Linked DNA regions of Homo sapiens. The protein of the gene in region 4 purifies or fractionates together with the protein of the main gene of each other region. This does not show direct contact. Each region holds a gene or a part of one and is shown on either strand. Other genes may lie near its edges. The genes, in order: PHLDA1, THADA, MCM3AP, TRIM66, TRIML1, CRYBG3 and BICRA.

The links.
Region 1: the proteins of TRIM66 (region 4) and PHLDA1 purify together in Homo sapiens (affinity purification with mass spectrometry, with the first as the bait; one large-scale study listed by BioGRID). This does not show direct contact.
Region 2: the proteins of TRIM66 (region 4) and THADA purify together in Homo sapiens (affinity purification with mass spectrometry, with the first as the bait; one large-scale study listed by BioGRID). This does not show direct contact.
Region 3: the proteins of TRIM66 (region 4) and MCM3AP purify together in Homo sapiens (affinity purification with mass spectrometry, with the first as the bait; one large-scale study listed by BioGRID). This does not show direct contact.
Region 5: the proteins of TRIM66 (region 4) and TRIML1 purify together in Homo sapiens (affinity purification with mass spectrometry, with the first as the bait; one large-scale study listed by BioGRID). This does not show direct contact.
Region 6: the proteins of TRIM66 (region 4) and CRYBG3 purify together in Homo sapiens (affinity purification with mass spectrometry, with the first as the bait; one large-scale study listed by BioGRID). This does not show direct contact.
Region 7: the proteins of TRIM66 (region 4) and BICRA purify together in Homo sapiens (affinity purification with mass spectrometry, with the first as the bait; one large-scale study listed by BioGRID). This does not show direct contact.

What each region holds. Positions count from the first base shown.
Region 1 is NC_000012.12:76,028,977-76,033,036, reverse strand, and holds the start of PHLDA1 (pleckstrin homology-like domain family A member 1), read left to right. Parts: upstream 1-1,260; 5' UTR 1,261-1,295; coding exon 1,296-2,501; 3' UTR 2,502-2,527; exon of another isoform or gene 2,528-2,543; intron 2,544-2,944; 3' UTR 2,945-4,060. UniProt on the Homo sapiens protein: Seems to be involved in regulation of apoptosis. May be involved in detachment-mediated programmed cell death. May mediate apoptosis during neuronal development. May be involved in regulation of anti-apoptotic effects of IGF1.
Region 2 is NC_000002.12:43,230,351-43,233,194, reverse strand, and holds the end of THADA (tRNA (32-2'-O)-methyltransferase regulator THADA), read left to right. Parts: intron 1-312; coding exon 313-482; intron 483-1,851; coding exon 1,852-2,247; 3' UTR 2,248-2,344; downstream 2,345-2,844. UniProt on the Homo sapiens protein: Together with methyltransferase FTSJ1, methylates the 2'-O-ribose of nucleotides at position 32 of the anticodon loop of substrate tRNAs.
Region 3 is NC_000021.9:46,237,623-46,240,611, forward strand, and holds part of MCM3AP (germinal-center associated nuclear protein), read right to left. Parts: intron 1-2,989.
Region 4 is NC_000011.10:8,611,540-8,614,102, reverse strand, and holds the end of TRIM66 (tripartite motif-containing protein 66), read left to right. Parts: 3' UTR 1-2,063; downstream 2,064-2,563. UniProt on the Homo sapiens protein: May function as transcription repressor; The repressive effects are mediated, at least in part, by recruitment of deacetylase activity. May play a role as negative regulator of postmeiotic genes acting through CBX3 complex formation and centromere association.
Region 5 is NC_000004.12:188,138,251-188,142,240, forward strand, and holds the start of TRIML1 (probable E3 ubiquitin-protein ligase TRIML1), read left to right. Parts: upstream 1-1,190; 5' UTR 1,191-1,308; coding exon 1,309-1,716; intron 1,717-2,277; coding exon 2,278-2,373; intron 2,374-3,990.
Region 6 is NC_000003.12:97,877,511-97,881,010, forward strand, and holds part of CRYBG3 (very large A-kinase anchor protein), read left to right. Parts: coding exon 1-527; intron 528-2,193; coding exon 2,194-2,238; intron 2,239-2,474; coding exon 2,475-2,590; intron 2,591-3,500.
Region 7 is NC_000019.10:47,607,894-47,611,933, forward strand, and holds the start of BICRA (BRD4-interacting chromatin-remodeling complex-associated protein), read left to right. Parts: upstream 1-1,240; 5' UTR 1,241-1,275; intron 1,276-4,040. UniProt on the Homo sapiens protein: Component of SWI/SNF chromatin remodeling subcomplex GBAF that carries out key enzymatic activities, changing chromatin structure by altering DNA-histone contacts within a nucleosome in an ATP-dependent manner.

The DNA.
Region 1 (4,060 bases), on a different chromosome or scaffold from region 4:
CTTAGATGAATATTCAGGACGCCCTCGTGTATAAAAGTTGTCCTTTGTTCTGACTACCTTGGTATTAAGTTCGAATTTCTTACCATGACACACAAAGGATTCGATTCTTGCTTAGCTCTCTAAGCTCCTCTCACTTTCTCTTCCCCTCTTGAATTCTTTGCTCTTGCCACACAACTAGCAGATGAACTAATCTATCTGTTCCAACGTGGGCACAGTAGCAGCCGTAACTCTTACCTTGGCCCACTCTGACTTGTCCAGCCCTGGTTGAATTCTTCGTATCCCCGTGAGGGTCCGCACGTAGTTGGGGCTGTTTACTAAACGGATGAACTTCCCTACCGGGAGGCTAGGTCTCGGTTATGCCTTACTTCCCAGGAAGCGGCTTCTATAGGCATTGTTTAAATGTAGGAGTAGGAGGGAGCTGGGGGTATTGCATTCCCCAGGTCACAGATAAATGAGATTCCAAAACCAAGATCTGGCTAGGCCTTGGAAAGAGGGACCTGCGAGGCCGACCAGACGTTTGGAACTGCGCCTTGCAGTGTGGGATCTCAGCACCGGATATTACCCCGGTTTGTAGAGAGTTGAGTTACTGTTTTAAGAGACGTTGCAAACCGTACGGGTCAAGAAGAAAGCCGAAGACGGGTTAGCGCCTGCGGTCGGGGTCGAGAAAAGCAGGCGAGATGCGACCTGACGTGGGTCCGCCTCTCTCCACCCGTGGCAAGCCCGACAGTCGCACTATTGCTTTAACAATCGCCCTCTTTCCAAGAAGAGCTACTTAGTGACCGTGAGCGAATATGCGTGGGAAGACACGATGTCCTCTCGGCCTCTGTGCGCTCAGTTGTTTACCTAGGCGTCCGGGGGAGGCACACTCGCGGGACTCGCGGGACTCGGCCCCGGCCTCCCAGCTCGCCCAGGACACGACGCTGGTTCTGCGGGCTCTCGGAGCCCAGCGCGAATCCCCCGGGCTAATTCCCAAGAACCGAGAGGCAGCACTGCCTGGAGGCTGCCCCCGCCTCCGCGCCCCCGTCCTCACTTTCTGAGGCTGTTAGCAGAGAGTCCCGCGGGCCGGGGAGAAGCGGGACGCGGGGGATGGCCTCGCAGCGCCCTGTGAGCGTCGGCAGTAGTCAGGCAGCCAGGGCTCCTTGGGCGATCGCCCTGGGTAGAGGAGAGGAGTTTCCGGGGCTCGGGTCCGGGTCGCCTTCCAGGGGAACGAGCGCGGAAGCAAGTGGGCGGCGAGAGGCGGAGCAAGAGACGCTGGAGGGCGTGGACGCAGCGGGCTTTGGAAAGGCCCCAAGTTAATGAGGCGTGCGCCGGCTGCCGAGCGCCTCTTGGAGCTGGGCTTTCCCCCGCGGTGCGGGCGCCAGGAGCCGCCTTTTCCGCTGGGTGTCACTCGGGGGTGGGGAAGATGGCCCATTCAAAAGCGCCGCGAGGGGGCCCGGCCAGTGCCCTTCAGTGAGCGCTCGCAAGAGGACGGCAGAGGCCCGGCAGCTCGGAGCTCCGGGACCTTGTGGCGCATCAGGACGCGGCTGTCCCTCTGCCGGGACCCAGAGCCGCCGCCGCCGCTCTGCCTCCTGCGTGTTAGCCTCCTCTGCGCGCTCCGGGCAGGCGGCCGTGGGAGCCGCTGGGGCGAGGACGGCGCGAGGCTGCTGCTGCTGCCCCCGGCCCGCGCGGCTGGAAACGGAGAGGCCGAGCCAAGCGGCGGCCCCTCTTATGCTGGGAGGATGCTGGAGAGTAGCGGCTGCAAAGCGCTGAAGGAGGGCGTGCTGGAGAAGCGCAGCGACGGGTTGTTGCAGCTCTGGAAGAAAAAGTGTTGCATCCTCACCGAGGAAGGGCTGCTGCTTATCCCGCCCAAGCAGCTGCAACACCAGCAGCAGCAGCAGCAACAGCAGCAGCAGCAGCAGCAACAACAGCCCGGGCAGGGGCCGGCCGAGCCGTCCCAACCCAGTGGCCCCGCTGTCGCCAGCCTCGAGCCGCCGGTCAAGCTCAAGGAACTGCACTTCTCCAACATGAAGACCGTGGACTGTGTGGAGCGCAAGGGCAAGTACATGTACTTCACTGTGGTGATGGCAGAGGGCAAGGAGATCGACTTTCGGTGCCCGCAAGACCAGGGCTGGAACGCCGAGATCACGCTGCAGATGGTGCAGTACAAGAATCGTCAGGCCATCCTGGCGGTCAAATCCACGCGGCAGAAGCAGCAGCACCTGGTCCAGCAGCAGCCCCCCTCGCAGCCGCAGCCGCAGCCGCAGCTCCAGCCCCAACCCCAGCCTCAGCCTCAGCCGCAACCCCAGCCCCAATCACAACCCCAGCCTCAGCCCCAACCCAAGCCTCAGCCCCAGCAGCTCCACCCGTATCCGCATCCACATCCACATCCACACTCTCATCCTCACTCGCACCCACACCCTCACCCGCACCCGCATCCGCACCAAATACCGCACCCACACCCACAGCCGCACTCGCAGCCGCACGGGCACCGGCTTCTCCGCAGCACCTCCAACTCTGCCTGAAAGGGGCAGCTCCCGGGCAAGACAAGGTAAGGTCCCGGCACTCGCGCTCCCGAGGAGTGGGTCTCGGGGGTAGTGAGTTGGGAGGAGTAGGAAGCTTGTTCACAGGTTCGGCTCCTGTATGGAGAAATCAAAACTCATACCAAGTTTCTGGGGCAATGGAAGAAACAGAAACAAGCTGGGGCCAGGAGAGCTGGGCAGAGAGGGGAGGCTGGGGAGATCCGGGCCAGGCAGGGGGCCTCGCGGACCGCGCCCGCGCCCGCGCCCATCACGACCGTCCTTGTCCCGTGGTGCGTCCCCCAGCCCCACTTGACTATATGTTTGGGCAGTTGAGGGAAACACCACGGTGTCTTTCTGAGCCCGCTTTGTCAGGCGGACTGGCCCGAACAGAACTGGTCTCGGAGGGTTCTTAGCCACCTACTTCACTCGGTGTCATTTCTTTCCAGGTTTTGAGGACTTGAGGAAGTGGGACGAGCACATTTCTATTGTCTTCACTTGGATCAAAAGCAAAACAGTCTCTCCGCCCCGCACCAGATCAAGTAGTTTGGACATCACCCTACTGAAAACTTGCGATTCTTCTTAGTTTTCTGCATACTTTTCATCACGATGCAGGAAACGATTTCGAGTCAAGAAGACTTTTATTTATGAACCTTTGAAAGGATCGTCTTGTATGGTGAATTTTCTAGGAGCGATGATGTACTGTAATTTTATTTTAATGTATTTTGATTTATGATTATTTATTAGTTTTTTTTTAAATGCTTGTTCTAAGACATTTCTGAATGTAGACCATTTTCCAAAAAGGAAACTTTATTTTCAAAAACCTAATCCGTAGTAATTCCTAATCTTGGAGAATAAAAAAGGGCGGTGGAGGGGAAAACATTAAGAATTTATTCATTATTTCTCGAGTACTTTCAGAAAGTCTGACACTTTCATTGTTGTGCCAGCTGGTTGAAATTAAAACTCTGATATTACTTTTTTTGAGGATTTTTATTTTTGTTTTTGCTTAAACATATAGTTTGTCTAGAAGTTTAAAAAGCTAAAAGTTAAAAATGGTGTAATTATGAAAATCTAACACTCAAGATAGTTTCTAAAAGGAAATCAGTAGTTAAGGATACCTGATTTCAAAATATTTAAAGCATAACCTAACTGATGGTAGGATGATTGTATCTTGAATATGTGGTAGGGCCACATCTATTGTAGGAAAACCTTGCTTTTATCATCTGTGTGTAAAGGGCTTAATAAGGAGAAGAGGCCTTTTGACTGATTTGTGAGTATAAATGCATTTGCTGTTTCATTTCAAAAATGTTGTGGAGGAAAAGAGTACATTTAACTTGTATAAGAGAATATTTGTACTCCTGTCCAGGCTGCAGGACCTTTCTTCGAGAGCTTTGCACACTTGACTTGAACCACATTTTCTGATCCCTTTACTTTGTTTTAGAAGCACACTGAAAAATCTCGTTGTTTAAAGTACAATTTGTAAATATTTCAAAGGTCTAGGAGTCATAACTTTTGTTTTCATACTGAAAATGATGTTGATCAGAGAAACCAACTGTTTTGCTTTT
Region 2 (2,844 bases), on a different chromosome or scaffold from region 4:
GATCCTTCTGGTGACACTGGAGGAGCAGAGGGGAGATAACTCTCTAATCCTGCAGATGGAACTGCTTCTGTCCACACTGAGTTAGGGGGCATGGAAACAGTGGGTTCAGGCCTATGACTCATTCTAACAGTATAAATAGCAGGATTCAGAAGGTGATTAATCGTCTCCAGTGAGCCCACCCTACCAGCTTCCCTGCCAGGCTGGTGGCAGCGATTTTACCTGAGGCCTTTATTGTTCCCAGGGTCCTGCAGGCTGCCCTGGGGTCGGCCCTGAGCAGTATATTCATTGCTCACCTTTCTCCTGTCTTTGCAGAGTTTGCCTTCTGCCAGGTGGATGCCTCCATCGCTCTGGCCCTGGCCCTGGCCGTCCTGTGTGATCTGCTCCAGCAGTGGGACCAGTTGGCCCCTGGACTGCCCATCCTGCTGGGATGGCTGTTGGGAGAGAGTGATGACCTCGTGGCCTGTGTGGAGAGCATGCATCAGGTGATCCCGGGGTGTCAGGGGAGTAGGAGGCAGGGTTGGAGTGTCCTAAACCCGCTAGATGCAGCACCTACAGCCTCAGCTGGGCTTTTGCATGCTTAGACACAGAGCAGGAACCACTAGGAAAGTCACCCACTGGGTGCTGCCGAGGACACGGGGACACTCTTAGGCTGACTTCTGGGGTGCTGATGGTCAGCCTCCAGCTTAGCCAGGGGAGAGAACTCGGAAAGAAGCCCCTGGCCGGGCACAGCGGCTCATGCTTGTAATCCCAGCACTTTGGGAGGCCAAGGCAGGCGGATCATGAGGTCAGGAGATCGAGACCATCCTGGCTAACACGGTGAAACCCCGTCTCTACTAAAAATACAAAAAATTAGCCGGGCATGGTGGTGGGTGCCTGTAGTCCCAGCTACTCGGGAGGCTGAGGCAGGAGAATGGCGTGAACCTGGGAGGCGGAGGTTGCAGTGAGCCGAGATTGCACCACTGCACTCCAGCCTGGGCAACAGAGCAAGACTCCATCTCAAAAAAAAAAGAAAAGAAAAGAAAAGAAAAAAAGAAGCCCCTGGATGCGGAGAGTTTTATTATGGAGACTGCTTGTTAGTCAGTATTGGAGTTAGCCTGGGGCTTCCCAAAGTTAGGTCTGAGGGTGAAGCATTTTCAGAGAATTAGGATCTTTGCTGGGAACTTCCTGCTTGAAGAAAACTATTATTAGCCCCCTCCAGGGTGGGTGCAGTCACAGATAGGGAAACTGAGGACAAAGACAAGCAGCAAAAGCATCCTGAGAACTGAAATTGATCGCCACCAGCATCTGACTCAGCTGGCCTTCTTGGCATCCCCAGCAGGCCAAGGGTTCAAAACGCATTGTCCCTCTTTATGAGAAATTTGGAGACATGGTAAGTGTCTGACAAAAGGACCTTGAGAATCACAGTGTTATAGAAACAGGACACAGCCTAGTGTCCTGTGTTTGGAGATTCCTTCCTCTCTGGCCTGCTGCAGAGATGACCTTTCCTCCCTCCTCTCCAATTTCCAGCTGCACCTTAAACTCTAGAGCCCACTCCCTTGTTGAAGTCCCCTTTTCAGCATCCATCCCCCAAAGTATCTTGACTTTGAACCACAAACACATCTTTATCCAAGGTCATGTTAAGTCTGGGGAAAAAATTCCTCTCTGGTGGAGAAATACAGTGAGTGAAAATAGAAGGTGACCTTCAAGGCTGCAAGTGGTGTGTGTACATGGATGTTGACAGGCAAGAGTGCACCCTCTGTCAGGTGGGGGAAGGGAAACCCCTCTTGCATCTGGCAGGGTACTGCTTGGTCTGGACTGGGGCTTGTCACCATTCCCTGTAAGACTGACTTTCGGCTTTTTCATCTGATTTAGGTGGAAGAAGACTACCTGTTTGAAAAAGCAGAAGTCAACTTTTGGGCCGAGACCCTGATCTTTGTGAAATACCTCTGCAAGCACCTCTTCTGTCTCCTCTCAAAGTCCGGCTGGCGTCCCCCAAGCCCTGAGATGCTCTGTCACCTTCAAAGGATGGTGTCAGAGCAGTGCCACCTCCTGTCTCAGTTCTTCAGAGAGCTTCCACCAGCTGCTGAGTTTGTGAAGACAGTGGAGTTCACAAGACTACGCATTCAAGAGGAAAGGACTTTGGCTTGCTTGAGGCTGCTGGCCTTTTTGGAAGGAAAGGAAGGGGAAGACACCCTAGTTCTCAGTGTTTGGGACTCTTATGCAGAATCGAGGCAGTTAACTCTTCCAAGAACAGAAGCGGCATGTTGAAGAAAATCTGGGGGATTGGGATGGGGGTATGTGTGGATTTTTCCTCCACTAAATCTGCAGGAAACATGTTGAACATAAATTCAAAAATTTTATCCCATTCATGCCTCCCCTACTTCTGTGAGTCCAGTCGTCTGTCACTCCTTACAGAGAAACTTTTCTTCAGTTCACTCATTCAGGGCAGCCTATTTTATTGCTGCTACTGTAGGAAGTGAGGCGACTCCGTTGCAGATTTACTCTGTCCCCAGGTGCAGGCCACCTGCAGGCCTGAATGAGCCTTTTTCATCCCCCAGGGCCTCTAATGCCCTGCCATAGCCGCCCTGCATTCTCTGTGAAATGACTACAGAGAGTTGGATTTTAGCACATACACATGATCCCTCCCCTCTCCCCTTTTCTGGCTTTATGTAGGGGCTGGATTAGTTGGCAAACAGCCCATTTGGTCAGATTTGTGAATTTTGTTCCATTTTAGCAAAGCAGAAATATGTTCCAAATGTTGGATCCTGGGAGAATTCAGGATCAACTTTGCACAAATAATTTATTTTTATTGTCTGCATGTGTTAAGTCCTGCAGTGACCTACACATTCCATCCTAATTATTCAA
Region 3 (2,989 bases), on a different chromosome or scaffold from region 4:
CTGAACTCAAGTGATGTGCACACCTCAGCCTCCCAAAGTGCTGGGATTATAGGCATGAGTCACCACACCCAGCCTTAAGCCTTTGCTTTTTACTAAGAATATAACTAAGTTATGACATCAACTGAGAAGCAGAAATGTACTTATTAAAAATTTAACAACTTCCTATGATAAAGCTTAATTTAAAAAAAAAAACTAGGCTGGGCTCGGTGGCTCATGCCTGTAATCCCAACACTTTGGGAGGCCGAGGCGGGCAGATCACCTGAGGTCAGGAGTTCAAGATCAGCCTGATCAACATGGTGAAACCCCGTCTCTACTAAAAATACAAAAATTAGCCAGGCATGGTGACACGTGCCTGTAATCCCAGCTACTTGGGAGGCTGAGGCAGGAGAACTGCCTGAACCCGGGAGGCGGAGGTTGCAGTGAGCCAGATCACGCCATTGCACTCCAGCCAGGGCAACAAGAGCAAAACTCCATCTCAAAAAAAAAAAAAAAAAAATTAGAGAAACCACTTCCCTTTAATTTATAAATCCAATTCCAATTTATATTTAATGAAAAAGGTGGTATTAATCCAAAAACAACTGCTTCGATGTGTTACTTAACATTACTTGTAATTGTCTTGTTTGGCTTATCTTATTTAATTTACTTTGGTTTTATGCATCTATAATTAATTCTTCTGACATTTTCCAAATGAGTGGATTGCTGCTTATAGCTTAAAATTAACTCAAAATAATATCCCACTGCCACCTAACATACTCTAGAGCTGTCTACTTCCATATACCGGTCTTTTCAAGAAAAACAATCTTGGCCAGGTGCAGTGGCTCATGCCTGTAATCCCAGCACTTTGGGAGGCCAAGGCAGGTGGATCACCTGAGGTCAGGAGTTCAAGACCAGCCTGGCCAACATGGTGAAACTGCGTCTCTACTAAAAATACAAAAATCAGCCAGGCATGGTGATGGGTACCTGTAGTCCCAGCTACTTGGGAGGCTGGGGCAGGAGAACTGCTTGAACCTGGGAGGTGGAGGTTGCAGTGAGTCGAGATTGTGCCACTGCACTCTAGCCTGGGCAACAGAGCGAGACTCTATCTAATAAAAAGGAAAAAAAAATCTCATCCCAAACCACTTAAATTATAGAGACTGATTTTAGTAATCGGACACATTCATTCACCCTTCCAAAACATATTCATTAAGCCTCCTCCAGATGCTAGGCATCATTCTAGGTACAAGGAATATTGCACTGAAACAAAACAGAGGCCCTGCCCTAAGCAATTTATACTTTAGTGAGGAGAGACAGACAAGGAACACATAACAAGAGAAACATGGTTTGAAGATGAGAAAGACAAAGCAGAGCCATGGAAACAAGAAGGTCGGAGATGGGCAAGCAGGGCCTAACAGAAGCAGACATTTGAGTAGAGATCTGAAGTGAGTACAAGATCAGCCATGGGGATGCTGGGGAGAATGGAGGGGCTGGACAGTCCTAGGCAAAAGGAACAGCAAACTCAGAGGCCCAACTGTGAACTGCCTACCATGCTCAAGGAAGGAGCGGAGGTCAGAGAGGAAATGGGGGGCAGATCACTCAGGGCCCTGGCCACCCCTGCAAAGTTTGCCTTTGATTGCAGGTGAAAGAGGGAAACCACTGAGAGGCTGTAAGCAAGCAAGTGACACGACCTCCATCTTAACTCACTTGAAAGGCACCCACCAGGTCTACCAAGACTAAACTGCAGCCTACTGTAATAATCCAGAAGGAAGATGATAGTGGCTTGAGCCACGTGGTGGCCATGGAAGTCATAACAAGTGGTCCAATTCTGAATGTATTTTCAATAGAGCCAATAGGATATGTGAATGGGCTGATGTGAGGGGATGATTCCAAGGCACCTGATCTAGGCAGCTGGAAGGATGGAGCCGCCATCAACAGAGATGACCACCAAAGGAAGGGGTTGGTTGGAAGAAAGCCGGGAACTGGATTTGGGATATGTTAACTTTGCAGTGGCTACCAGACATCCAATAGGTGTCTAATGAAGATTTCAAGGAAGCAGTAGCATGTTCAAGTGTGGAGTTCAGAGGTTTGAGATACAAATTTGGAGCTGTCAGAATAGTGATGTTACTTAAAAATCCATGAAACTGGATGAAATTTCTGAGGAGTAGGTACAGACGATGCAGAGGAGAGGTTGAGAGAATGAATCCAGGGGGCAGCTGGGGGATGAGGAGGAACCAGCAGGGCAGGAGGGGGACCACGGACATCCTAGGAGCAAGGAGGGGAGGATCAAGTATGGGATGCTACCAAGGACTGGGATTCACGGTCATGTTCAACCCTGGGCCTTCATCCCCATGGGAAAGAAGGCTGAAGAAGTGAGTATCACAAGCGTTTTTGAGGAGTTTTACCATTAAGAGGGCAGAAACATGAAGTGGTGGCTAAAGAGGGAAGTGGGACCAAGACAGGGAGGCATGTTTCATGTCTGTGTGCTGCTGATGGGCACCACCTAATATGGGGAGGGGTGGTAGCACGAGAGAGATACTCATTGAATGAATGTCCTTGGGTAGGTGGGAGATGAGATCCCAGCCCAGGGAAGGGCTGACTGACTACGAGCTGCATGGTTCGTTTCCAGCAACAAGAGGCGTCAGGAAGGGGATATAGGGAGGATGCTGGATGTGGCTGGGAGGGCAGGGAAGGCAGAGGACAACCTGTGGAAGGTCCCTTATTCCTGATTCTACTCAGTAAAATGGTAAACATGGCCATCAAATGAAAGCAAAGGAAAGGTATGCATGGGAGGGAGGGAAGTGGGCAATGTAGAGGAGGGGCAGCCCCAGCTCCTGTCCATTCACAGCATGGGATGATCCACCAATGCCTCAGGCTCCCAAGGGCAGGGTGCCTGTGGCCAGCCATAGTGTTCAGCACTCACCATCTTCTGAGCAGACTTAACCACATGAATTTCCCAGAAAAACTTAACACTGACTTTCAATAATAAATAATAAATGAAATTCACTTCAATATA
Region 4 (2,563 bases):
GCCTCCCAAAGTGCTGGGATTACAGGCGTGAGCCACTGCGCCAGGCGTATCCCCTTCAATTTTGCTGAAACTATCAGCCATTCTCCATTTTCGGCATCATCATATTTGCTGCTTCCACCTCCTGGGCTGCTATGCATGACAGATTCACAGTTGGCAGCCTCAGTTGAGCTCTCAGTGTTGACTGGAAATTCTTTAACTTGTTGTGATCCCTTTTTTTTTCCCCACCCATGCCTCCATCTTTGTCCTCCACAAATGACTGAGCTCACTGTCTACTTCACAGAAGACAGCCCCTAAAGCAAGAGCTTCCTTGCCTGCTGTTCCTCTCTCCCCTCTCATTCATCTGTGTCTGTAACTCTCCCCAACCCCTCCATTCTTGCTCCTATTTAATTCTCTATATCTTGAATCCTGTTGTATGTCCTCCAAGACTGCTCCCTCGCTTACTCCACTGCTCCCACTCCCTGGAGTCTCCAGCCTCTGTCTCCACTGGTTACCTCCACACAGCCTGCAAACAAGTTCTCCACAAGATTAAAACAGCATTTCTCAGAGTCTGTTACCCCTTACACATTTTCCTTGTTAACCAAGTTACTTTTAAAAAGATCCTTTTTAAACTGATTCTTCCTCAGCTGTTCTTCAGCCCTCTATACTTTTTCATAAAAGTCACCAGTGACTGCCCAGTTGCCAAATAGAATGAATACCTTTCAGTGCTCAGCTGTCTTGACCTCTCCGCAGCATTTCACACCACCCACCAACCCTCAGTGAAACAACCTCCTCCCTTAGCTTTTATGACACCACAAGTCTCTGGATTCTCAGAGAATCCAGAAAAACAAGTCTCTGGATTCTCTCCTCTTACCTCTCAGCCCACACAGGCTGAGCTGTCCTTGAAACCTAGATGGGGGAAATGTCTGTGGCTGTCTGTGGTCTCTTCTTTTCAGGAGTTGGGTAGGGAGGAAGAATCACAGCTGCTCCTGCTTCCTCTGTCTGTCTCTCTATTTCCTGAGTCCCTTCCTTTTCCTGAACTCAGTTCTCCTCATGCCAACCATGTTTATGAGCTCCTGCTGGGAGGACAGCATCTGTGAGTCCTTCCCTCTGTCTCTCCCAGACAACACAGAGGTTTTAGCCTGTTTGCTAAGAGACCCCATCTAAGTCAGCCCAAGGGTGTGGATTAGGTTTTACAGCATCCAGGCCGCAGTCTGGCTAAACTGGATTACCAGGCTGGTGGGCAGCTCCTCACCATGATCCTGCACCAGTTAGAGCCTGCTGTAGTTGGGAAGGAGCCTGGGATTGTGGTAAGATGTGTTTCCGTGCATGTCAGTGCTGCTAACCAGGAGGAGAACCTGGCAGGGTGGGTGCCTGCTGCTGATAACATTCGGATGGAGGGAGACTAGGGAGCGCGGTGGCTGCTCCCTTGCTGGGGCTCAGCTGGAGTCAGCATGACTCCTTATATCAGGGCCTTTCCCACCTGTGCTGATCACCACCACCTGCTTGCTCCAGTTGTTTCTGGAGTTGGAGGCAGCTATTGGTTGCTTTCTTGGAGGTAAGGAGGTATATACTAGAAAGATATCTGATTTGAGAGTCTGAACACCAAAATTTTTGGCTCTTTCCATTATGAGCTGTGTAACCTTGGATACAGTTTCCTCATCTATAAAGTTGTGGTGGGAGAATGGCTGAGAACAGTGATCTCTCAGCTCTCCAGCTGTAAAGATGTTAATTATGATTTTAACTCTCAAGATCAGGCCACATAAGGAACAGGGGAATTCCAGGGGTGGGACACAGCTGGGGGAGTCCAGACCAGGGCAGGGAAAGGAGACTCACAAGCCAAACAGAGCTGCTTTGGGGAAAGTTCTTATCAGCTGGTGCTGCTTCCTGAGCCATATGCCCATTCCTCAAGCTGTACCCCTTTCTTGGCTATGTAGGATGAGTTCCTCCTAGGCCCTTGTTAGGAGTGGCTATTGGATTCTAAGCGGTTGGGGCATGAGGGAGGATATTTTAAAGGGAAGTATAGCTGATTTTAAAAGAACCTATACATTCAAGAACAAATAAAAAACAGCACTTTTCTTTACCAAGAATTGCGTCCTGGAGTGTTTTTCAGCGAAGATAGTTGAACCTATCACATGGTCTTCTTGCCCCTAGATCTCTACATCATAAGAACTCAAGGTGGGGAAGAATAGCCTGGGAAGCCTTTCTCTCTAGGGAAGAACTCACCTCTCTGCTTTTTCTTCTTCTTATTATTTTTTGTTTTGTTTTTTGAGACGGGAGTCTCACCCTGTCGCCAGGCTGGAGTGCAGTGGCGCGATCTCGGCTCACTGCAACCTCCGCCTTCCAGGTTCAAGCGATCCTCCTGCCTCAGGCTCCCAAGTAGCTGGGACTACAGGTGCGCACCACCACGCCCAGCTAATTTTTTGTATTTTTAGTAGAGGTGGAGTTTCACCATGTTGGCCAGGATGGTCTCAATCTCTTGACCTTGTGATCTGCCCGCCTCAGCCTCCCAAAGTGCTGGAATTACAGGCGTGAGCCACCACGCCCAGCCTGCTTCTTATTTTTATTATTTTTAGTTTTCTTCAGA
Region 5 (3,990 bases), on a different chromosome or scaffold from region 4:
GATAAGAAAACATCCAACATCCTGTTGGAGGTAAGTGGGAAAGAAGTAGCAGTTGGAGCCTTGAAAGTCAGAAACCAATGAACGGAACAGCCTGAGTAATGGACCCGACTCGTGGAAGGCTGCCAAGCTGGAGAGTGAGGGGACGGAGACAGAAATATGGCGTGATGAGTTCGTGGGAAGGTCAAACTCGCTGGCCTTTGAGGAAGAGCTTTTGAGGTGCAACTTCCTGGCATGCAGTGAGCAGAAGGCAGGCCAGGACAGGAGCTGACTCCCGAGCAGGGGACACAGTGAATTTGTGGCATTTGTTACCAATCTCGGAGTTCACTGTGCACAGTCTCCACACTAGGCATTTACTTTTTCATATGTCCGAAAAAATGTCTGCACACTTCATTTCTGTCCAGTAAGAACTGATAATCAGGGATTTGAAGGGGCCTAGTTTGGAAATTTTCAATGGGTGAAAATAAGTGAGCAAAATTACATTTATACTAAAATATAATTCTTTCCATCTGCTCCATAGTGGGATAGCCTCTTGAGGCAACTTCCAATTAGAATGTCATTTTAGATGCTTTCCAAGATGGCAGATGGGTGAGTACTAGGGTGTGCAGGGAAGATCAATAAACAGCTCTGGCAATTCATCGTGCGCCTAACACCAAGGAATACTTCAGTGGAAGAGCTCTCATTTTGTTGGGATGAATAAAATTAAATAAAAGTACACAGTACCCAATAAAGGAACAAAAGCTTAGGCTTTGGTCAAGCAGAACAAAAGGGGCTAATGAGAAAAGGACTATGTATTACAGTTTTCTTCTCTCAGTTCTCAACTAGGTTTTATTAGTGGAGTTCCCAAAAGATTTGGACCAAATTTCCAATTCAGATATTATTAGAGATCATCAAAACTCAAATCTCTTTACTGGTTTACACCAAATCACCCAAGCTTCCAGCCTAAAACCCACATGCTCACATGGTTCCACAGTGCTGTTTATGTACAATAACCAGTTCTCAAAATGGTAATCCTGTTAGAAGCCAGAATCCTCAGCCTCTAGCATGTGTGCTTTTCACAGAGATAAGTCTCAAAGTTTGGGGTTGGTGAGGAGCCCAGTATACAGGAGTTCCACATTAAGTCATAATTGGCTTTGTGTTGGACAGTGTATGTCAGCTGGTGAAATCAGGCACAGAAGAGATAAGGGTTTCTTGTCATAACAACATAGGAACAGGTCACCCGCGTGTTACTCAAAACTGTAGGACGGCAGTGAGGGCTTTGCTAATCCCAGAACAGAGGTGTAACCTGGCTGCATATCCAGCCTCGAGAAAATGTCTACAGCAGATCTGATGGAGAACCTCAGGGAGGAACTCACCTGTTTCATCTGCTTAGACTATTTCAGCAGCCCAGTGACCACCGAGTGTGGGCACAGCTTTTGTCTGGTGTGTCTCCTCAGGAGCTGGGAGGAACATAACACACCTTTATCTTGTCCTGAGTGCTGGAGGACCTTGGAGGGCCCGCATTTCCAGTCAAACGAGCGTCTGGGGAGGCTGGCCAGCATCGCCAGGCAGCTCCGGTCCCAGGTGCTGCAGAGCGAGGATGAGCAGGGCAGCTACGGGAGGATGCCCACCACTGCCAAGGCGCTCTCCGATGACGAGCAGGGTGGAAGCGCCTTCGTAGCCCAGAGCCATGGTGCAAACAGAGTGCATCTCTCCAGCGAGGCTGAGGAGCATCACAGAGTAAGACAGCTGCTCAGCATGAACCCCACGACTCATCGCAGCTAACTCCGTTAGCTTTCCTGACGTTTCCTAACGTCCTCTGTGGGGGACAGTCACGAGGGCCCATCTGAGCACCACATCACAAACTGGCGTGGGTCCAGTTTACACCCTTTTTTTTCCCTTTTTTTGTTTTTGAGACAGAGTTTTGCTCTGTTGCCCAGGCTGGAGTGCAGCAGTGCGATCTCAGTCACTGCAACCTCCGCCTCCCAGGTTCACGCCATTCTCCTGCCTCAGCCTCCCCAGTAGCTGGGACTACAGTCACCCACCACCACGCCCGGCTAATTTTTTGTATTTTTAATAGAGACGGGGTTTCACCATGTTGGCCAGGCTGGTCTTGAACTCCTGACCTCAGGTGATCCGCCTGCCTCGGCCTCCCAAAGTGCTGGGATTACAGGCGTGAGGCGCCGCACCCAGCCTGCCCTTTGTTTTAGAGGCCTAGGACTGCGCAGTTACTGGTCTTCAAAGCCCCTTCATGACCTGGGACTCTGCTCATTTGCCAGAAAGGGTTTGTTTCTATTGCAGGAGAAACTCCAGGAAATCCTGAATCTTTTGCGTGTAAGGAGAAAGGAAGCTCAGGCTGTACTAACCCATGAGAAGGAGAGAGTGAAACTGTGCCAGGTCGGTGTCTGTCTGACTTTTGCTGCTTGTATATGACCCCATAAGGGGGACTAAAGGGAAATTTAGTGAAATATCAGGAAAAAAAAAAGACAAATTTTTCCAGTCTCACCTCTAAAATATGCAGTTTCCTTGCATTGGGCTGCCTTCTTCTGAGCGTCCTCGTGGGAGTCTCAAGGCTCAGCTGCAATTCGCCCCCTCTAGGAGCCTCCTTTGCATAACTAGACAACGCTGTGGCTTCCTCTATGATGGCTCTGGTAGAATTATTTAAAACACAAGTGATACTTATAGACATGTAACATGAGACGGAAAGCGATTTTAAAAAGAAATATCTCAAAAACATGGAGGGGAAAATGCAAATTAAAAAAAATAAAGAGACAGAGATATAAAAGCAAAATAGTGGTTTAAATGATACCTGACAAGTCCTCAAGGTTGGTCACGGACTTGGATTTGAGCTCTCCAGCAGTCAAAGCAAAGGACTAAATATCAAATTATATATTTTTTAAAACCATGTATCTGATTCTCCCAATAGACTTTGAAATCTGTTTTTTTTTTTTTTTTTTTGGAGATGGAGTCTCTCTCTGTCGCCCAGGCTGGAGTGCAGTGGCGCGATCCCGGCTCACTGCAACCTCCACCTCCCGGGTTCAAGTGATTCTCCTGCCTCAGCCTTCTGAGTAGCTGGGATTACAGACGTGTGCCACCATGCCCAGCTAATTTTGTATATTTGTGGAGATGGGGTTTTACCATGTTAGCCAGGCTGATCTCGAACTCCCGACCTCAGGTAATCCACCTGTCTCGGTCTCCCAAAGTGCTGGGATTACAGGTGTGAGCCACCGTGCTTGGCCGTAGACTTTGAATTCTTAAGTGAGAGTATTTGCCATGTATGTTTCTGTTCCTTTTTGGTTATCTGACACCTACTTTCATTGAATAAATATTTGTTGAATAAATGAACACACATTTTTCATAATTTTTCTTAATTTTGTTTTATTTGTATCATAGTCCTGATCACTACTTGTCATATTTCTTACTCATTTTTGGTTTTCTCCACTAGAACGACCGCCTCCTGGGAATGGAGATTTTGGTTTTGTTTACTATTGTATCTATAGCGCACATACCTCCGAAAACATCAACCTCTACACCCAGCGCATCAACAGATTAAATGTATTATATGTTGGATTTCAGGAATTGTTGCCATGAAACTCTAGGACTTGGCCAGGCATGGTGGCCCACACCTGTAATCCCAGCACTTTGGGAGGCTGAGGAGGGTGGGTCACCCGGTCAAGAGACTTGAGACAATCCTGACCAACATGGTGAAACCCCATCTTTACTAAAAATACAAAAATTAGCTGGGCGTGGTGGCACACTCCTAGACTATAGTCCCAGCTACTCAGGAGGCTGAGGCAGGAGAATCATTTGAACTCAGGAGGCAGAGGTTGCAGTGAGCCGAGATTGCGCCACTGCACTTCAGACTGGCGACAGAGTGAGACTCCATCTCAAAAAAAAAAAAAAAAAGAAAGAAAGAAACTCTAGGACTTGTAAGGATTAAAAATCTACAGACAAGGGCATTTCTCTTACTAACTTTATCTCGTGTGTGTGTGTGTGTGTGTGTGTGTGTGTGTG
Region 6 (3,500 bases), on a different chromosome or scaffold from region 4:
GTCACCATGGCCCCAGGAAATCAAGAGACAGTGAAAACCAGTCCTCTTCTGTTTTATCCCTTCTCCAGTCAGTGTCAGAACGTTTAAAGATGAATTTTGATGAAGATGACAGAGAGGCAGCTGATGAGGAAGAAGAGGAGGAGGAGGCAGCAGTATTGCATAAAGGAGATCTGAGAGCTGGAAGTGGGGAGCGTGTTACCTTCCAGTTGCCAGATCCTTCCATCACATTTTACCCTGATGACCAGGAGAGCGTTGGAATTTCTAAGAATTCATATGTGATGCCAAATGAACCTACTACCTCCAATCTGCAAGTTGGTCTGTGGCCAGAAAAGACCTCGTTTCTCCAGAAATCTGACCTTACTTCTAAACTACATTCTTCTTTAAAGAGTGCTTATCATCAGTATCTGCAGACTTCCCAAAGTCATTCCTCAGAAAAAGGAGCCAGATTTGGTGGAATTTTTCAGGAACCAGTGTCAAAATATTTCCGTGTTCAAGACAGCCCAGGCAGATTGAGCCCATTTATAGAGGTAAGTTATTTTGTTTATTGTATTAATAATAGTTATTAAAGCTTTGGGTCACGAAATTATCTAAAGGCTTATTAAGAAAAGTCAATGTTTTGGCCAAGCATGGTGGCTCATGCCTGTAATCCTGGCACTTTGGGAGGCCGAGGCAGGTGGATCACGAGGTCAGGAGTTCAAGACCAGCCTGGCCAAGATGGTGAAACCTTGTCTCTACTAAAAATAAAAAATAATTAGCCGGGCATGGTGGCGGGCGCCTGTAATCCTAGCTACTGGGGAGGCTGAGGCAGAGAATGGCTTGAACCTGGGAGGTAGAGGTTGCAGTGAGCCAAGATCGCACCAGTGCACTCCAGTCTGGGCTATAGAGTGAGACTCCGTCTCAAACAAACAAAGCAAAAAAGAAAATGTTTTGAGGTTGTAGAAGTTGTATAAAGTTTGTTTCATAAAAATATCAGATTCTTTGGTTGAAATATATCATAACTCATGTATTTTAGCTGGACTACTTAGAAAAAAAAATTGCTTGGTCAGAATTTAAAAAGCATAATACTGAAGCAAGGTTATTTTGAAGTCTTTTGCTAATATTTTTCAAACTAAATTAAGTGACAACATTCCAAATTTCTCAAGGTACTGTATGTGGGAAAATTGTCACTTTGCATTTAGCTTATTAGTTTCATGAAAAATCTTTCTGTTAAGTAAAATTTTTAAGTATTTGACAGCAGCCTCGCACTACAACAACTCATGTTGTTCATGCAACGCAGGGCAGTGAGCAACCTAAATCAAACAAAAGAACTGAAAACTTTATAGCTGGAAAATGTTTTAAATTCAATTACAGTTTTCTTTGATTTAGAAATATTTAAATATTTAATGTAGAATGCTTATTAAATATGGGACTTTCCTTTCTGGCATTTCCAAGATCATGGTACTTTCAAGATAAAGATACAGGATGTCCAAGGCCTGTATTTTTACCTTAAACAATCTTCATGGCAAATAGTAATACTCAAAGACCAACCAAAACCTTGCAAAGCAAAGTCATTTTAAAAGAAATGATAGGATTTGAAGAAATATTTCTTTCATGGTTCTCCACTGCCTACCAAATCAAGTGGCACCTCTTAACTCTGCATTATAAGGCTCCCAAGTTCTGTTTTGCCAGCCTTGTCTCCCCACACTCTGGGTGCACACTCTGTGTTTCCTACCAGTACACTTTTCCCCAGGATGGTTCTCTTCCTAGAATTTCTTTATTCACTATCCCATCACAACCTGCCACATTTTCCACTCACTGAAATATTGTTTTTCAAGGTCCCTCAATACTACTTCCTCAGAAATGCCTCTTTGAACCTCTGTATGCCCTCACCTCCATGCTGGTGCCATTTCCATAACCTAGTGTTTTCCTTGTATTTTACCTGTGAATGTAACTTAGTCCCCTGGCTTAGTAGAGCTATGCAAATATGATCATCTGTTTGACCCATTCTAAGCTATGTACTTCTTGAGGGCAGAGACAATGTGTTAATTTCCTATATATTTGTATTTATATCACTTGTATCGAGAGAAGCACCTTGCTCATAATGATCACTAACTAAATATGTGATAAATTGGATACAAGACTGCTAAGAAAATGAATTATGCATCTTTTCACCGATGTTTCTTAAAGCTTACTTTTCCACTTTTATTATTTCAGAATGTTGACAAACAAACTCTGAGATGTAACCCAAGACCTGGGAAGGTAAGGATAACTTTCTCAAACTAAGATAAAGGTTAAACATTAGGTAACTTTCAGGCTTGAGGAATTTAATATAAGTGACTTAGATAATGATTTTATTCAAGGATTTAACATCTAAAGTAACATTTGCTTTTGTATATTTAGGATATTTATTTCTATGTTCTAGGACATTTTAGAATTTAAAATACATTCTAAAAATTAGTTATTGTAACTACTTACTGCTATTTACTGTGTTGCAGATGGTTATCTATGATCTCCATGAAAGTACATATAAACAAGAAGTCTACTGTAATATTCCTGATGCTACATCATGGTCTTTTCCAAATGGAGTTCTAATAAAAGTTGTAAGGGGCTGGTAAGAAGTTTCTTAAAATTTTATAGCATATTTTCTTAAATTAAATGTGTCTTCTTGCTGTTAATGCTTTTTTTTCTATTTTTTATTGAAGTCATATTCTCCTTCCTCTACTTTTCGACAGAAGATTTTGAAACATTATTATTAGTGTGTTATAACTTAATTGTTCTTTTTATTTACTATGGCATAAAATACAATCTGTTTTTAGTGCTTAAGCCAGTAAGTTGCAAGACCTAATCTATACAATCAATACCATTCTGTAACTACATTATTAGCAGGATAGATTTGGCAAGTTTGGGTGAATGCTTCAGTTGAATGAAGCATAGCTTTGAAAATGAGTTCAGAATTTGTGGGATGCTGAGGAATGTGAAGGCCACATAGTTAAAGTTGTTTGTATAGCTGACTTGCTCAAGAAGTGAAGGAATCTTTGTATGGTCTAAAAATGAGGGGCAACCCTATCTATTTATTATGGACCATGACCCATGGACATGCTGGAGCCAGAATTTATCTGTCCAGTGTTTAGGCTACCCAGGTCAGCATTCATGTCTTAAATCATATGGTGTAATCTCGTCTTCATATAATAAAATGGGACATGTGTCCTGTGTTATTCAGCAACAAGAAAATTAGAAGTATAATTTGGAATTGTTGCACTATTGTTTTTTATGCAACTGTATAGTTTCGTATAGACCACATCTATAAAGAGCATACATACATAAATATAGACATAGAAATATATTGTGGTACTATGTTCAGAAAGTATTTTTATTTCCAAGGTATATGCACTTTTATTTTTTCTTTACTGTTCGCCTGTACTTAAATTAGCATATATCATTGTTTCAAAAAATAGGGTTATATGCTAATAGTGGAAGATATCCCAGCTTAAAAAATTTAAGTAGACAAAATGGTCTGTGAC
Region 7 (4,040 bases), on a different chromosome or scaffold from region 4:
CATTTATTCAACCCGCATTCACCTACTGTGTGCACGAGCTTTTCTAGGGCACTGGGGAGGCAGAAGGGACTAAAACAAAGTATAAATCTCCCTGGGCTGCAAGCATCGGGAGGGCAGGTCCGGGGGCTCTGTGTCCCCACTGGGCCCCCAGCACTGCGCAGCGCACACAGTGGGCGCTCACCAAGCGCTCGCTAAGGGCAACGCGTGAATCCGTGTCCCGCCAGCAGGGCGTTTACGGCCTGGTGGGGCGGAAACGGACCCGACACCACCGCGGCGTCCTGGGGCTTCTGGGAATCCCATCAGCGCGGCCAGAGCGGCCGGGGACAGGCTCCGAGGCAGGCCCGACCCGCCTCCCCGGCGCCGCCGTGGCTCGACGGAGACCAGCTAGGGTGAGTGATCGAGCCACGCCTGGGGTCCCGGCCTGTCACCCCGAAGTCCCCGCCGCCTTCCACCCTGTCAGGCTCCAACTCTGGGCTCCGGCGCGGTCCCACCTCCGGGGGGAACTCCCCTCCATCCCCTCCATTTCCTTCATCCTCGACTCCCGCTATCTTTTCGGACCTGCGGCGCTCCCCCTGGACGCGTCCTCCCGCCGGACGACCGTCCTCCGCCTCAGGGGACGCGCCCAGGACGCACGGCGCCCCCTCCCCAGCCGGACCGGCGGTCTGGGAGCGCGGATCCCTTCAGCTCCCCCGCGCCCCAGCATCCGGATCAGGGCTCGAGGCAGTCGACAAACTACACCCGAGCTCGAGCAGGCGCGCCCCTGAACCCCCGGGACTGGGGCTGGGGGCGGGGGCGGCGCCGGCGCGGAGGGCCCAGTCCCCGGACGTCCGCAGCCTCCCATTGGCTCCGGGTCCCGCCGCTCGGCCTGGCGGGGCCGGGGCTGGTCCGCCCGGACGCGGGGCGGGGATTCCTGAAGCCCCTCCTCCGGCGAGGGCGGAGGGAAGAGGAGGAGGAGGAGGAGGAGGAAGGGGGTGGGGGGCGGAACACAAAACCTGAGAGGTTTTTTTTTTTTTTTTTCCGTTTGCATTTAATTAAAAAAAATTTTTTTTTTTTTTGCATACCCGAGGGGCGCTCCCCGGAACGGGCGCGGGCCCGGGGCGCGCGGGCCTGGGCGCGGGGCGGCGGCGGGGGCCCGGCAGCGGCTGCCGAGCGGCCGCCATGCGATCAGGCAGTGCGCTGACCGGCCCGGCCGGCCGGCCCCTTCTGGGTCCTCCCTTTGCAGCCCGTGCGGGGCCGTCTCGGAGACCCCGCGCCGACGGCTGCTCAAACATCAGGGTGAGTTTCTCACAATGTAGCAATTTCTCTTTAAATCTCTTAACTCTCTCTACCTGCGAGTCGGGGCTGTGACAGGGCGCAAAAGCGAGGGGGGAGTGGGGGTTGGCGGCGAGGGTGTGTGTGGGGGGAGCCGGAGCCGGGGCCGAACCCACCCCCGCGACACTCTCACACTCAGCCCCCCAGCCGGGGCGCAGCGCCCGCTGCCTCCTTTTTTTTTTTTTTTTTTTTTTCCTGCTCGGCGCCCACCGCCACCGGCACCCCCAGCCCCGCGTCTCTTCCACCACCGCCGCCGCCCCGATCCTATGGGGACCCCCCCCCAACCGGCTTCCCTGCCCAGACCCGGCGCCCAGTGCCTCCCCGGCCCTCCCGCCGGCTGCCGGGGATACAATGGAGCGGCGGAGAGAGGAGACCTAACGTTCCACGGGGGGAGGGGCGCGGAGACCCCCTCCCCGTCCCGGCCCCCTCCCCTCGCCCCGCTCCCCGCCTTTCGGGGAAGGCGAAGGCCACCGGGCAGCGGGCGGTGATCTCCCGGCCGGAGGCGGAGAGCCTGCATCTCCCCGCCTCGCTCGGCCCCTGCGCCCCCTCCCCAAATCCCTCCCGTGGGTGTCGCGGACAGTGGGGGGCCCTGGAAAGCTGGGGAGGGATGGATGGGGAAGGAGGCCACCGGGGCTCCCCCCTTCGCACCGCCCCTAAACAATGAAAGGAGTTGACTTGACCCCCAGCCCCCGGCAATAGAGGGAGGTGACCCCCTCCCCCACCCCCAGCTGAGGCTCATCCCGGAGGGGGCCGTTACGGGGGTGGGGGGGGTGAGCGCCTCCTGTCACTTCCCGAGGTTCGGGGCGGCCCCCCATCTCCTACCCCTCGGCCTGGGAACGGGAGGCACCAGGCCCGGCCGGGGCACCGCGCTCGGGTGGTGACCTTTAGACAAAGGCAGCCCTTTCCCCGGGGTGAGCCCGGACGAGCTGGGCCTGCGGCCTCCCCGGGCCCCTGCGGAGGGCAGCCAGGCCGCGGGCACCCGGAGGGAGGGATGGAGGAGGAGGGAGGAGGGATGGAGCCATCTGGTTTTCCCATCCCTGGCTGCCCCTCGTCTGCTTCCCCGACTCCTGTCACGGGCGGCCGCGGGGAGACGAGGGACCAGGGGCTGCTTGGGCCTTGGTGCGCGGCCAGCCGGGAGGACCGGGCAAGGAGCCGCGGGAGAGCTAGGCTCGGGCTCGGGCGCCGGCGGTGATTGGGAGGCACTGCGGCTTCTTCCTCTCCGCGCCCCTTTGTTTTGCTTTGTGGTTCTGAGCAGCTGAACTTCCCGGGAGGTGGGGTCAGAGGCCGCGGTGTCAGCTCTCCCGGGGAGGCCCAGGTGACAGGTCCTAGCTCTCTGGTGTCCCCATCCTGGTGGGCTGCAGTCTGTGCCCAGGCCCATGTCCTGACCATCGTCCCCTTTTGTCACCCCCCCCCCACACACACACCTACCTACCCACCCCATAGTATAATACAGATCTAGGGGTGCCTTTCTCTTACACCTCTTTACGGAGGGCACTTGAAAGGGAAACTAGAAACATCCAAGGCATCAAGGCCTGAGATTCATGATAAGCTCTCTGTGCTTTTAACCTCTCCCAGCACCTGGGGTGGGTGTGGGGGGTATTGTCAACTCTGACCTGCCCTGGGTCATGAGAAAATGGGAAGACAACTCAGGAAGCACCCCCTTCCCATGCACTGGTAGGACTTTTGGGACATGTTGACCTCCCTTGCCTTCCCTCATAGCTCCCCGCTCAAGATGGAAATATTAATAACAATATCAAACTAGGGAGCTTTATTCCGCTGCTGCTAAGTACATTACACGCTGGCCACAGTCCAAGGAGGAAATAGAGACGGGACAGACATTCCCGTTTTCCAGACAGGTTCATGGAGGCTCAGAGAGGTTAAGAAGCTTGCCCAGGGTCACACAGCCCTGGGTCACACAGAGCCCCAATTTGTAACCTCCTGGAGTTTTTCCAGCTTGGCTCAAAACTGTTAAGCCCTTCTTCTGTCCCACCCTTTGGCATTTTGTCCCCCTGACTTCAGTGGACCTGGTTCGGAAATGTAGATAATATTTAGAAGAAGCGGCCAGATTTTTTTTTTCCCTGGGAGCTGGTTTTGAGAAGGGGTAAGATGCACCTCGAAGTTGGGCTGAGGGCAGGATCATTTCACTTGTGGCTGGAATGGAGAATTGTCTGCAGGAACTGAGAACTGAAGGTGTGTGAGGAGTGGGGGAGGGGGAGCCCCAGGCCTGGCCAGTGATGGGCTCGGGGTACCTGGGAGCTGGCCCCACTGTCATCTTCTCCCTTCTCTACCTGAGCGGGGGACTTGGCCCCATTTGCTGCTACTCAGCCCTGAAGTAGAGAAGAGAGAAGCTGAACTGTTTGGGAATGTTGATGTCTGGTTGTTCCTATGCCCTGTGACCCGCTGTCGCTTTGCCACACCATGGCCCTTTGATGCAGCTAGCGGAGAACTTTCTTGCCTGTTCTCCTTGGCATGATCCACTCTGTAACCTTAGGCAGGTCATTTAACTGCTGGTCCTGTTTTCTCATCTGCAAGTGGGGGTAATTATAGTTCCTTTAAGTGACCTGGAGGTGGGTAAAAGTATTATCCAAACGTGTCATTCATATTTATCATTCAGCAGGCCGGGTACGCAGTGTGGGCACAGGGGAGGAATGTCAACTGGTGGCATTTAATTTTTTTTTTTTTTTGAGACAGAGTCTCGCTGTGTTGCCCAGGCTGGAGTGCAATGGCCT